Linked DNA regions of Homo sapiens: all the other regions are linked to region 1. The links come from fine-mapping of genetic effects on gene expression. A gene starts in region 1. Each other region holds a variant in brackets. All regions are shown on one strand. Distances are between the middles of the regions.

Evidence for each region. PIP is the estimated chance that this variant, and not a neighbour inherited with it, causes the effect.
Region 2: its variant is the best candidate, but not a certain one, in a credible set for the expression of KIAA1143 in monocytes (BLUEPRINT, PIP 0.57).
Region 3: its variant is the best candidate, but not a certain one, in a credible set for the expression of KIAA1143 in lung (TOPMed, PIP 0.79).

The regions. Positions count from the first base shown.
Region 1 is chr3:44,759,781-44,764,104 of GRCh38, reverse strand. It overlaps KIAA1143, which reads left to right and starts at 2,486. Exons shown (of 3, transcript NM_020696.4): 1 at 2,486-2,610. The coding sequence starts at 2,503. It overlaps KIF15 (kinesin family member 15), which reads right to left and starts at 2,311. Exons shown (of 35, transcript NM_020242.3): 1 at 2,221-2,311. The coding sequence starts at 2,239. RefSeq lists enhancers at 2,261-2,540, 3,331-3,973.
Region 2 is chr3:44,889,241-44,893,240 of GRCh38, reverse strand. TGM4 (transglutaminase 4) reads right to left here. Exons shown (of 14, transcript NM_003241.4): 4 at 2,509-2,638. Among named protein-coding and RNA genes, the nearest start is that of TGM4, 17 kb to the right of the region's middle. The variant G/A (reference allele first, on the strand shown) is at 2,463.
Region 3 is chr3:44,819,605-44,823,928 of GRCh38, reverse strand. All of the region lies in intron 20 of KIF15 (kinesin family member 15), which reads right to left. Among named protein-coding and RNA genes, the nearest start is that of MIR564, 40 kb to the left of the region's middle. The variant C/T (reference allele first, on the strand shown) is at 2,561.

The DNA.
Region 1 (4,324 bases):
GTCTTTTAAAGAGTCTTCCTGCTTTAAAACAGACCATTGGATGCTTTACTCTGCAGTCTAGATAAATACTCATCAGTCATTTGCCCAAACATGATTGGGTTCAGAAAGGGAATCTTAGGCCAGGTGCAGTGGCTCACGCCTGTAATCCTAGCACTTTGGGAGGCCAAGGCAGGTGGATTGCTTGAGTTCAGGAGTTCAAGACCAGCCTGGGCAACATGGTGAAACCCTGTCTCTACTAAAATACAAAAAATTAGCAGGGCATGGTGGTGCACGCCTGTAGTCCCAGCTACTTGGGAGGCTGAGGCACGAGTACTGCTTGAACCCAGGAGGTGGAGATTGCAGTGAGCCAAGATTGCGTCACTGCACTCCAGCCAGCCTGGGTGACAGAGCAACACTGTCTTTAAAAAAAAAAAGGGGGGAATCGTATATTTCACTTTTTCATTTCTCTGATTTCACAGTCAGCAACTCATGGTGTCAATGATGTCACTAGAGATAGCCTTCATGGGGCCGGGTGTGGTGGCTCATGCCTGTAATCCCAGCACTTTGGGAGGCCAAGGTGGGCAAATCACGAGGTCAGGAGATCGAGACCATCCTGGCCAACACAGTGAAACCCCGGCTTTACTAAAAATAAAAAAATTAGCTGGGCATGGTGGCGCGTGCCTGTAATCCCAGCTACTTGGGAGACTCAGGCAGGAGAATCTCTTGAACCCGGGAGGCGGAGGTTGCAGTGAGCCAATATCGCACCACTGCACTCCAGCCCGGCAATAGAGCAAGACTCTGTCTCAAAAATAAAAAAGAGAGAGAGAGATAGCCTTCGGGGCACAAAGTAAAAGTTGCAAAGACCACTGCACGGGCTCTCTTCTCCCATGTGTTCCCACTTCATGCTCCAGGCCTCTGGGCTGCTGGGAATGCAAGAAGCACTTTAACTGGGAAGTCATCAACCTCAATTTTGCCAACAAACTTAAAGGAGTGGAAAAGTTCCCCATGGCATCACCACCATCATAAAGGAGAGTGCTCCCACCACTTTAGAAAGGTTCTCAAATTTGGTTTTCAGACAAGAGCCCTCAGTCACATACATATATCTCATTAAATAAGCAGATGTTTTACTTATTTAACAGGCATCAAATTTTTTGCTTGAGTCCAGATTTAGTGACTGATCCATAAAGTGGAAACAAAGAACAAACAGTATGATTGTTCAGAAAGCAGGATGAACATTTCTCTCCAATAAGGTACCATTTTGTGAGCTCATAGTCCTTGAATACTGAAAATGATGAAAGGAAAAGGAATATTTTATATGCAAAAAGGTAGCATAAGGAGGTGTTCCGATTAGGTGTGATCGACCTAAAAGATTAATGAAACAACAAACCCATCAAAAACGACTACAATTGACAGAAAGCTAGAAACATTAACGGCGTTGGAAAGCTCAAATGACAGAAGTTCACAAATTCTTAATCATCTAATCCAGGCCTCTCCTCATTACCATTCAGACCACTCACAAAGATCCCATTAAATCAGCTCATAATCAGGTTTACAAAAATAAGACTCCTTAAGAGATGTGGCAATGTGAGAAGTGGAGCACGTACACAGGCACAGCAAATGACTACGTTAGTGAAAACTGTAGGGTTTATCATAAGCAAAATGACAGTGCTCTCCTCCGTGAAAAAGAGAAAGAAATCGGACGGGTCTCCTTTAAGTGAAAATAGAGACTGTGAGAACATAAAGACATTGCTGACATCTGTGTTTTAACATTCCATTTATTTAAGGAAAGAGGAGAAAGAAATGTTTGGAATATAAATAAACCCTTCCCTATAGGAAGGTCAGAAATGTAGAAATACGCAGAAGCTGGTGGGAGCAAAAGCCGATCCTGAGACAAGGATATCTAGAGAGGTAGCCCTGGTCGGGATGTGGGAAGAGGCCTGCGAAGAAACAGCAGAACCAAGGGAAAGAAAGGGAAGAACGTCAGGTCCACTGCTCATCCCGAGCGCCTAGAACTGCGCCAGACTCCTGGCATGCGCACAGGACACTGAAGGAAGGGATGAGCTTTTCGGCTAGCGTATTGTCTTTGAGCGACAGAGCGGGATTCCCAAACGTCCCCGCCGGTCACTCAGCTCCTGCAGTTCATGCCTAGCAAGAACCTTGCGGGCGGTCCGAGGCTGCCATCCTTTCACAGCTGTATTTGGGGGCAAAAATAGGGTAACGAAGCCGGGGGCCCAGACTTACTTTTGCAGCCGGGTGCCATAGCGCCCTCACCCCTCGATCCCGAAAACAATGCAGCCGGTGCCTCCACCTCCCGACTGCACCGCGCGCGACTGAATTCCGCCCGCTCAAGATGGCCGCAAATTTGAATTTGGCGCTTGGATCGGACGTTGACGCCCGCATGGAGGCCGCCATGTTGCCCGGCCTACGCATCGGGGGCGTGGCCCAGTGACGTCACAGCTAAGCGCCTCTGTATCGTCGCGAATCCGTCGCGGAACCTGTCTTCTGTCTTTACCCAGAGCTACCATGAGCAAGCGGAACCAGGTATCGTACGTGCGGCCAGCCGAGCCGGCGTTTCTGGCCCGCTTCAAGGAACGGGTCGGCTACAGGGAGGGACCCACCGTAGAGACTAAGGTGAGCCTTCGCCAGTCGTGTTTCTTCGGAAGCGCAGCCAGCCCGCCACTTTCAACTTTTGCCTCTACTTGGAGGGTGGGTGCTGTCGGGTCCCTCTTTTCACCCGCGCTCGAACCCAATTCCGGTGGAACTCGGACCCCCAGGCTGGTTCTTTTCAAGCGACCACAGCCCCCTACGCCCAGGAAGCTCTGTAGTTTTCAGAGCGCTGCTGTGTTCCTGAAAATGAACTGACGTGTAAACCACCTGGTCCTTGGTAGATGGTAAAGAAAGATCACTTTATTGTCTCTTCTTTCTCACTTGTTTACCTCAAAAGCTGTGAGTTCGCAGGGTGAGTTAGAGTTACAGCGTCGTCCCGTATTCCAGATAAGGACACAGGCCACTCGATCAAATGACCCCCGCCCCAACCATGTCCTAGGACTCGAGTCTGGAACGTCTTCGGAGGAATGTCCTGAATCTGTTTCTATGCTTTGTTAATTAAAAATAAATAAAAATAATATAGAGAAGGTCGGGCACAGTGGCTCACGCCTGTAATCCCAGTACTTTGGGAGGCCTAGGTGGGCGGATCACCTGAGGTCAGGAGTTCGAGACCAGCAGAGCCAATAGCCAATATGGTGAAACCCCCCGTCTCTGCTAAAAATACAAAAATTAGCCGGGCATGGTGGCACATGCCTGTAGTCCCAGCTACTCCGGAGGCTGAGACAGAATCGCTCGAACCCGGGAGGTGGACGTTGCAGTGAGTTGAGATGGCGCAGCTGCACTCCAGCCTGGACAACAGAGCGAGACTCCGTCTCAAAAAAAAAAAAAAAAAGCCGGGCCTGGTGGCTCACGCCTGTAATCCCAGCGCTCTGGGAGGCTGAGGCGGCAGATCACGAGGTCAGGAGATCGAGACCATCCTGGCTAAAACAGTGAAACCGCGTCTCTACTAAAAATACAAAAAATTAGCCAGGCATGGTGGCGGGCGCCTGTAGTCCCAGCTACTCGGGAGGCTGAGGCAGGAGAATGGCGTGAACCCAGGAGGAGGAGCTTGCAGTGAGCCGAGATCGCGCCACTGCACTCCAGACTGGGCGACAGAGCGAGACTCCGTCTCAAAAAAAAGAAAAAAAAGAAGAGTAAGCAGAAGCCGTAAATATCCTGGGTCTAAATAGAAGAAGAGGAGCTTCAGGAAAGAGCCACACCTGACTATTGTTGTCTAGGGCCGGAGGGATCAGTATTGAACACATGAATGACAAGAAAGCAAAACAGCTACATTGCTGATACAGAGAAAGTTTTAGTGGTCTGGATAGAAGAGCAAACCAGCCACAACATTCCCTTTAACCAAAGCCTAATCTAGAGCAAGGCCCTAACTCTTAAATCCTGTGAAGTCTGAGACATGTGAGAAAGCTGCAGAAGAAAAGTGTGAAGCTAACAGAGGTTGGTTCATGAGGTTTAAGGAAAGAAGCCATCTCCATAACATAAAAGTATGAGATGAAGAAGCAAATTATTCAGATCTAGCTAAGATAGTTGATGAAGGTGGCTACACTAAACAGGTTTTCAATGTAGATGAAACAGCCTTCTATTGGAAGAAGATGCCATCTAGGACTTTTTTTTTTTTTTTTTTTTTGAGATAGGGTCTCACTCTGTCGCCCAGGCTAGAGTGCAGTGGTGCAATCACAGCTCACTGCAGCCTTGACCTCCTGGGCTCAAGTGATCCTCCTGCCTCAGCCTCTCAAGCAGC
Region 2 (4,000 bases), 130 kb before region 1:
AAATGCCAGGGGCTAGCAGGTAAACATGGTGGAGAGCTGGCCTTGGAAAATCACTGTGCAACCATCACAGTGAAGAATGGTTGAAGCAAGAACCATCAGTGGATGCTAAATCTAGGGGTGGAGAATTTTAATAAGGATCAGGATGTTTGGATGGTCTTAAAATGTGTCCACATAGACTACTCGTTAAAAAGAAAAAGATAGTAATTATATAGCAGAAAAACTGGACAACACCTTGACCAAATGATCACATTTAACATTCCCAATGAGGGGCAGGCAGTGCCTCCAGATATGATTTTCCAAGAAGGACATGTCGTTTACATAATATCCAGCAAGGACTGCGTAACCTGAATCTAAAGATGATGAATCATCAGACAGACCCAAATGATGAATGATCTGTTAAAAAAGGGGACTTCTAGTCCTCAAAAATATGTCAAAAAAGACAAAGAAAGATAAAGAAATTGTTCCAGATTAAAGGAGGTAAACATAACTACATGCAAAATGTGACTCTAGATTGGATCCTGTACTGGAGGGAAAACAATGCTATAAAGTACATGATAAAATCAAGTGACCGGCTGGGTGCGGTGCCTCATGCCTATAATCCCAGCACTTTGGGAGGCCAAGCCAGGTAGATCACCTGAGGTCAGGAGTTCGAGACCAGCCTGACCAACATGGCGAAACCCTGTCTCTACTAAAAATACAAAAATTAGCTGGGTGTGGTGGCATGTGCCTGTAATCCCAGCTACTTGGGAGGCTGAGGCAGAAGAATTGCTTGAACCCAGGAGGCAGAGGCTGCAGCGAGCCAAGATCGCACCATTGCGCCATTGCACTCCAGCCTGGGCGACAAGAGTGAAACTCCGTCTCAAAAAAAAAAAAAAAAATTAAAAAAAAAGTGACCAAACTGGAATATAGATAGTAGATGAAAGTGTTATGCTAACACTTATTTTTTTAATTATTTATTTTTATTTATTTATTTATTTATTTTTGAGACAGAGTCTCGCTCTGTCACCCAGGCTGGAGTGCAGTGGCGTGATCTCAGCTCACTACAACCTCCACCTCCCAGGTTCAAGCGATTCTCCTGCCTCAGCCTCCCAAGTAGCTGGGATTACAGGTGCATGCCACCAGGCCCAGCTAATTTTTTGTATTTTTAGTAGAAACAGGGTTTCACCATGTTATCCAGGATGGTCTTGATCTCCTGACCCTGTGTTCCGCCTGCCTTGGCCTCCCAAAGTGCTGGGATTACAGGCATGAGCCACCGCGCCTGGCCTATTTTTTTTTTTCCTTTTTTGAGACAGAGCTGGAGTGCAGTGGTGCAATCTCGGCTCACTGCAAGTTCTGCCTCCCGGGTTCACGCCATTCTCCTGTCTCAGCCTCCCTAGTAGCTGAGAATATAGGCGCCCGCCACCATGCCCGGCTAATTTTTTTGTATTTTTAGTAGAGATGGGGTTTCACCGTGTTAGCCAGGATGGTCTCGATCTCCCAACCTCGTGATGCGCCCACCTCGGCCTCCCAAAGTGCTGTGATTACAGGCGTGAGCCACCACGCCTGGCTGCTAACACTTAATTTACTGAAGTTGATAACTGTACTGTGGTTATATGAGAGAATATCCCTGTTCTTAGGGAATACACATTGAAGGGTTTAGGGGTTGTAAAGAACCAACTTATATGTAACTTACTCTCAAATGGTTCAAAAATAAAAAGCTTGTGTGTGTGTGTGTGTGTGTGTGTGTGTAGAGGAGGGAGGGAGGGAAAATGATTAAGCAAATGGAGCAAAATGTTAACAACAGGTGAGCCTGGATGATAAAGGGTATAGGTTGTTCATTACATCATTTTTGCCACTTTTCTGTGAGCTCAAAATCATTTCCAAATACAAGTTAAAAAAAAAGAGCTCCTTGGCTTCTAGCATGGGTACCTGATGGCTTTTGACTTCAAGAAGGCCCCAGGAGAGAGGGCAGGTGTGGAAAGGGTTGACATAGAATGTGCCGCATTTGAGGCTGCAAGAAGATGTCCAGCACCCTCTGGAGAGAAGCCAGTGCTGGTAATGGCAGAAGTAGCCTCAAGCACCATTTACATAAAGGCTCCAGTGTAGCCACAGGAAGAAATGAGGTGGGTACATGAGGAAGTGGAGAGAAGAGAACAGAACTAAGGGAGCAGAAGGGAGGAACCAACCACAATTCAGGCCCTGACCTGGAGCTGGCAAGGAAGAAGTCCTTGGTGGCCCCTCCCCACCCCCACGAAGGCAGCCTCTGTACAGTGGTGGAGGCAGAAGCCAGCTGGGGCAGGGCGAGGCACTGGGGAGAAGTGGAAACAGGGAATAAGGACCTCCATTCTAAGGGGCCTGGTCACAAAGAAAACGCTCCATTGGTGTCTGTGATCTGTTCCTGGGTCACATCCCTTAAACTAGTTTGCAAGTACCTTGAGAGCAAACAAAAGCTCATAGACTATGCATTGCACATAGCAGGTTTT[G/A]CCGGGGTCACCTGCCATTCCCCAGCAGACCTGAGATTCACAGTACCTTTACACCATGGGTTGAAGAGAAGGTATAGGATGTTTTCTTCAGACTTAAGGATGTGGTTTCCAGTTTTCACGTTTAGTTGGTACTTGCCCAGGATGGCATTGGGGGAACTGGTGACAGCCACTGTGACCTGAGCAAACCATAAGATAAGGTGGACATCTCCCCCTCTGGCCAGATCCCAAATCTTACAAATGCTTCCCAGAAGAATCCGTCAGTCCTAACAACTCATCCCATCTGGAACCAGCCTGGAGACAAGGAATGGTCAGGACCCTGGACAGCCAGGAGCGCCCCTGCAAGGGCAGGATGCATGAGACAGAAAAGCAGCTCCATACAGCATGAAGTTTTGGCACGTCTTGCAAGGGCCCTGGAGAGACTGGGCATTTTCACCTCCCTGAGATTCACTCCCTTCACCACTTGCTTCACCACAGCCTGGAGGTGATACCATCTCCAGGTTGTTGGGAAGATGCTGTGGATAAAGTACGCATAAGGTGCTGACATGGCTGGCTCTGTGTCCCCACTCGAATCTCGTCTCGTATTGTAATCCCCATAATCCCCACATGTTGAGTGAGGGACCTGGTGGGAGGTGATTGAATCATGGGGGCAGTTTCCCCCATGCTGTTCTCATGATAGTCAGTGAGTGCTCATGAGCTCTGATGGTTTTATAAGGCAGTTTCCCCTGCTCTTTCTCGCTCTCTCTCACCTGCTACCATGTAAAATGTGCCTACTTCCTCTTCTGCCATGATTGTAAGTTTCCTGAGGTGTCCCCAGCCATGTGGAACTGTGAGTCAATTAAACTTCTTTCCTTTATAAATTACCCAGTCTCAGGTATTCTTTAGAGTAGTAGAGTAGTACAAGAATGGACTAATACAGGTGCCTAGCCCAGTGTCTGGAACTTCAGGGGAAAGGTTAAATGTCAGCTGTCTTTTGGAGCAAAAAAAAACACCTTTCTCTTGGAATACAGGCAGCCAGAGTCCCAGAAGGCCATTGGTCCAAGGGCGTCCAGGCCTCTATCCAGCCTTTTAGGATAAATAATAGCTGGAGAGATAATTAGGATACATCAATATTGCTGTAGCCACAATGGTACCAAGAATAATAATTCTCATCCTTGTCACAATACACTTCCATTTGTGGTCCAAGGTCCTCCCATGAGATGCTTATTATTATAACTCATAGGAGCAATAGGCTCTCAGTTCAAATCCCAGCTCTACTCTTCCCCCTTTTTTTTGAGACAGAGTCCTTCTCTCTCACCCAGGCTGGAGTGCAACTGGCTTCTAGCATGGGCATCTGATGGCTTTTGACTTCAGGAAGGCCCCAGGAGAAAGGGCAGGTGTGGAAAAGGGTTGACATAGGATGTGCCACATTTGAGGCTGCAAGATGTCCAGCACCCTCTGGAGAGAAGCTGGTGCTGGCGATGGCAGAAGTAGCCTTGAGTGCCATTGCAGCATTGAACTCCTGGGGTCAAGTGATTCTCCCACCTAAGCCTCCCAACTAG
Region 3 (4,324 bases), 60 kb before region 1:
GGGAAGCCATGACAGACTGTACCTGGAAAAATGGGACACTTCTGCCATAATACTGAGCTTTTCCAATGGTCTTATCAAATGGCATACCAGAAGATTATATCCCGCACCTAGCTCGGTGGGTCCCACGCCCACGGAGCCTCACTCACTGCTAGCACAGCAGTCTGAGATCGACCTGTGAGGCAGCAGCCTGGCAGGGGGAGGGCCATCCGCCATTGCTGAGGCTTGAGTAGGTAAACAAAGCGGCCTGGAAGCTTGAACTGGGTGGAGCCCACCACAGCTCAGCAAGGCCGGCTGCCTCTATAGATTCCACCTGTGGGGGCAGAGCATAGCTGAGCAAAAGGCAGCAGAAACCTCTGCAGACTTAAACATCCCTGTCTGATAGCTCTGAAGAGTACAGTGGTTCTCCCAACACGGTGTTTGAGCACTGAGAATGGACAGACTGCCTCCTCAAGTGGGTCCCTGACCTCTGTGTAGCCTAACTGGGATAAACCTCCCAGTAGGGGCCGACTGACACCTCATACAGGTGGGTGCCCCTCTGGGACGAAGCTTCCAGAGGAAGGATCAGGCAGCAATATTTGCTGTTCTGCAGCCTCCGCTGGTGATACCCAGGCAAACAGGGTCTGGAGTGAGCCTCCAGCAAACACCAACAGAGCTGCAGCTGAGGGACCTGACTGTTAGAAGGAAAACTAACAAACAGAAAGGAATAGCATCAACACCAACAAAAAGGGCATCCATACCAAAACCCCATCTGTCAGTCACCAATATCAAAGACCAAAGGTAGATAAAACCACAAAAATGGGGAGAAACCACAGGAGAAAAGCTGAAAATTCTAAAAACCAGAGCGCCTCTTCTCCTCCAAAGGATTGTAGCTCCTCACCAGCAATAGAACAAAGCTGGACGAGAATAACTTTGACGAGTTGACAGAAGTAGGCTTCAGAAGGTCGGTAATAACAAACTTCGACAAGCTAAAGGACCATGTTCAAACCCAATGCAAGGAAGCTAAAAACCTTGAAAAAAGATTAGACGAATGGCTAACTAGAATAAACAGTGTAGAGAAGACCTTAAATGAACTGATGGGGCTGAAAACCAGAGCATGAGAACTTCATGACACCTGCACAAGGCTTCAACAGTCGATTCGATCAAGTGGAAGAAAGGGTATCACTGAGTGAAGATCAAATCAATGAAATAAAGCGAGAAGAGAAGTTTAGAGAAAAAAGAGTAAAAAGAAATGAACAAAGCCTCCAAGAAACATGGGACTATGTGAAAAGACCAAATCTACATTTGATTGGTGTACCTGAAAGTGATGGGGATAATGGAACCAAGTTGGAAAACACTCTTCAGGATATTATCCAGGAGAACTTCCCCAACCTAGCAAGGCAGGCCAACATTCAAATTCAGGAAAAACAGAGAATACCACAAATATACTCCTCGAGAAGAGCAACCCCAAGACACATAATTGTCAGATTCACCAAGGTTGAAATGAAGGAAAAAATGTTAAGGGCAGCCAGAGTGAAAGGTCGGGTTACCCACAAAGGGAAGCCCATCAGACTAACAGCGGATCTCTCAGCAGAAACTCTACAAGCCAGAAGAGAGTGGGGGGCAATATTCAACATTCTTAAATAAAGAATTTTCAACCCAGAATTTCATATCCAGCCAAACTAAGATTCATAAGTGAAGGAGAAATAAAATCCTTTACAGACAAGCAAATGCTGAGAGATTTTGTCACCATCAGGCCTGACTTACAAGAGCTCCTAAAGAAAGCACTAAAAATGGAAAGGAACAACCAGTACCAGCCACTGCAAAAACATGCCAAATTGTAAAGACCATCGACGCTAGGAAGAAACTGCATCGGTACTGCTGACATCTCAGCTCACTGCAACCTCCCTGCCTGATTCTCCTGCCTCAGCTTGCCGAGTGCCTGCAATTGCAGGCACGCACCGCCACGCCTGACTGGTTTTCGTATTTTTTTGGTGGAGACGGGGTTTCGCTGTGTTGGCCGGGCTGGTCTCCAGCTCCTAACCGCGAGTGATCCGCCAGCCTCGGCCTCCCGAGGTGCCGGGATTGCAGACGGAGTCTGGTTCACTCAATGCTCAATGTTGCCCAGGCTGGAGTGCAGTGGCGTGATCTCAGCTCGCTACAACCTCCACCTCCCAGCCGCCTGCCTTGGCCTCCCAAAGTGCCGAGACTGCAGCCTCTGCCCAGCCGCCACCCTGTCTGGGAAGTGAGGAGCGTCTCTGCCTGGCCGCCCATCATCTGGGACGTGAGGAGCCCCTCTGCCTGGCTGCCCAGTCTGGAAAGTGAGGAGCGCCTCTTCCCAGCCGCCATCCCATCTAGGAAGTGAGGAGCGCCTCTTCCCGGCCGCCATCCCATCTAGGAAGTGAGGAGCGTCTCTGCCCGGCCACTCATCGTCTGAGATGTGGGGAGCGCCTCTGCCCCGCCGCCCCGTCTGGGATGTGAGGAGTGCCTCTACCCGGCCGCAACCCCGTCTGGGAGGAGAGGAGCGTCTCTGCCCGACCGCCCCGTCTGAGAAGTGAGGAGCCCCTCCGCCCGGAAGCCGCCC[C/T]GTCTGAGAAGTGAGGAGCGTCACCGCCCCGCAGCCACCCCGTCCAGGAAGGAGGTGGGGGTCACCCACCGCCAGGCCAGCCGCCCCGTCCAGGAGGGAGGTGGGGGGGTCAGCCCTCCGCCCGGCCAGCCGCCCCGTCCGGGAGGTGAGGGGCGCCTCTGCCCAGCCGCCCCTACTGGGAAGTGAGGAGCCCCTCTGCCCGGCCAGCTGCCCCGTCCGGGAGGGAGGTGGGGGGGTCAGCCCCCCGCCCGGCCAGCCGCCCGGTCCGGGAGGGAGGTGGGGGGGGTCAGCCCGCCACCCGGCCTGCCGCCCCATCCGGGAGGGAGGTGGGGGGGTCAGCCCCCCCGCCCGGCCAGCCGCCCCGTCCGGGAGGGAGGTGGGGGGGTCAGCCCCCTGCCCGGCCAGCCACCCCGTCCGGGAGGTGAGGGGCGCCTCTGCCCGGCCGCCCCTACTGGGAGGTGAGGAGCCCCTCTGCCCGGCCACCACCCCGTCTGGGAGGTGTGCCCGGCAGCTCATTGAGAACGGGCCATGATGACAATGGCGGTTTTGTGGAGTAGAAAGTGGGGAGAGGTGGGGAAAAGAGTGAGAAATCGGATGGTTGCCGTGTTTGTGTAGTAGGAGGTAGACATGGGAGACTTTTCATTTTGTTCTGTACTAAGAAAAATTCTTCTGCCTTGGGATCTTGTTGATCTGTGACCTTACCCCCAACCCTGTGCTCTCTGAAACATGTGCTGTGTCCACTCAGGGTTAAATGGATTAAGGGCGGTGCAAGATGTGCTTTGTTAAACAGATGCTTGAAGGCAGCATGCTCGTTAAGAGTCATCACCACTCCCTAATCTCAAGTACCCAGGGACACAAACACTGCGGAAGGCCGCAGGGTCCTCCGCCTAGGAAAACCAGAGACCTTTGTTCACTTGTTTATCTGCTGACCTTCCCTCCACTATTGTCCTGTGACCCTGCCAAATCCCCCTCTGTGAGAAACACCCAAGAATGATCAATAAAAAATAAATAAAAGTTTAAAAAAAAAAAAGGAAAAAAAAAAGAAACTGCATCAACTAACGAGCAAAATAACCAGCTAACATCATAATGACAGGATCAAATTCACACATAACAATATTAACCTTAAATGTAAATGGGCTAAATGCCCCAATTAAAAGACACCAACTGGCAAATTGGATAGTCAAGACCCATTGGTGTGCTGTATTCAGGAGACCCATCTTACGTGCAGAGACACACATAGGTTCAAAATAAAGGGATGGAGGAAGATCTACCAAGCAAATGGAAAGCAAAAAAAACCAGCGATTGCAATCCTAGTCTCTGATAAAACAGACTTTAAACCAACAAAGATCAAAAGAGACAAAGAAGGCCATTACATAATGATAAAGGGATCAATTCAACAAAAAGAGCTAACTATCCTAAATATATATGCACCCAATACAGGAGCACCCAGATTCATAAAGCAAGTCCTGAGTGACCTACAAAGAGACTTAGACTCCCACACAATAATAATGGGAGACTTTAACACCCCACTGTCAATATTAGACAGATGAATGAGACAGAAGGTTAACAAGGGTATCCAGGACTTGAACTCAGCTCTGGACCAAGCGGACCTAATAGACATCTACAGAACTCTCCACCCCAAATCAACAGAATATACATTCTTCTCAGCACCACATCGCACTTATTCCAAAATTGACCACATAGTTAAAAGTAAAGCACTCCTCAGCAAATGTAAAAAAAACAGAAATCACAACAAACTGTCTC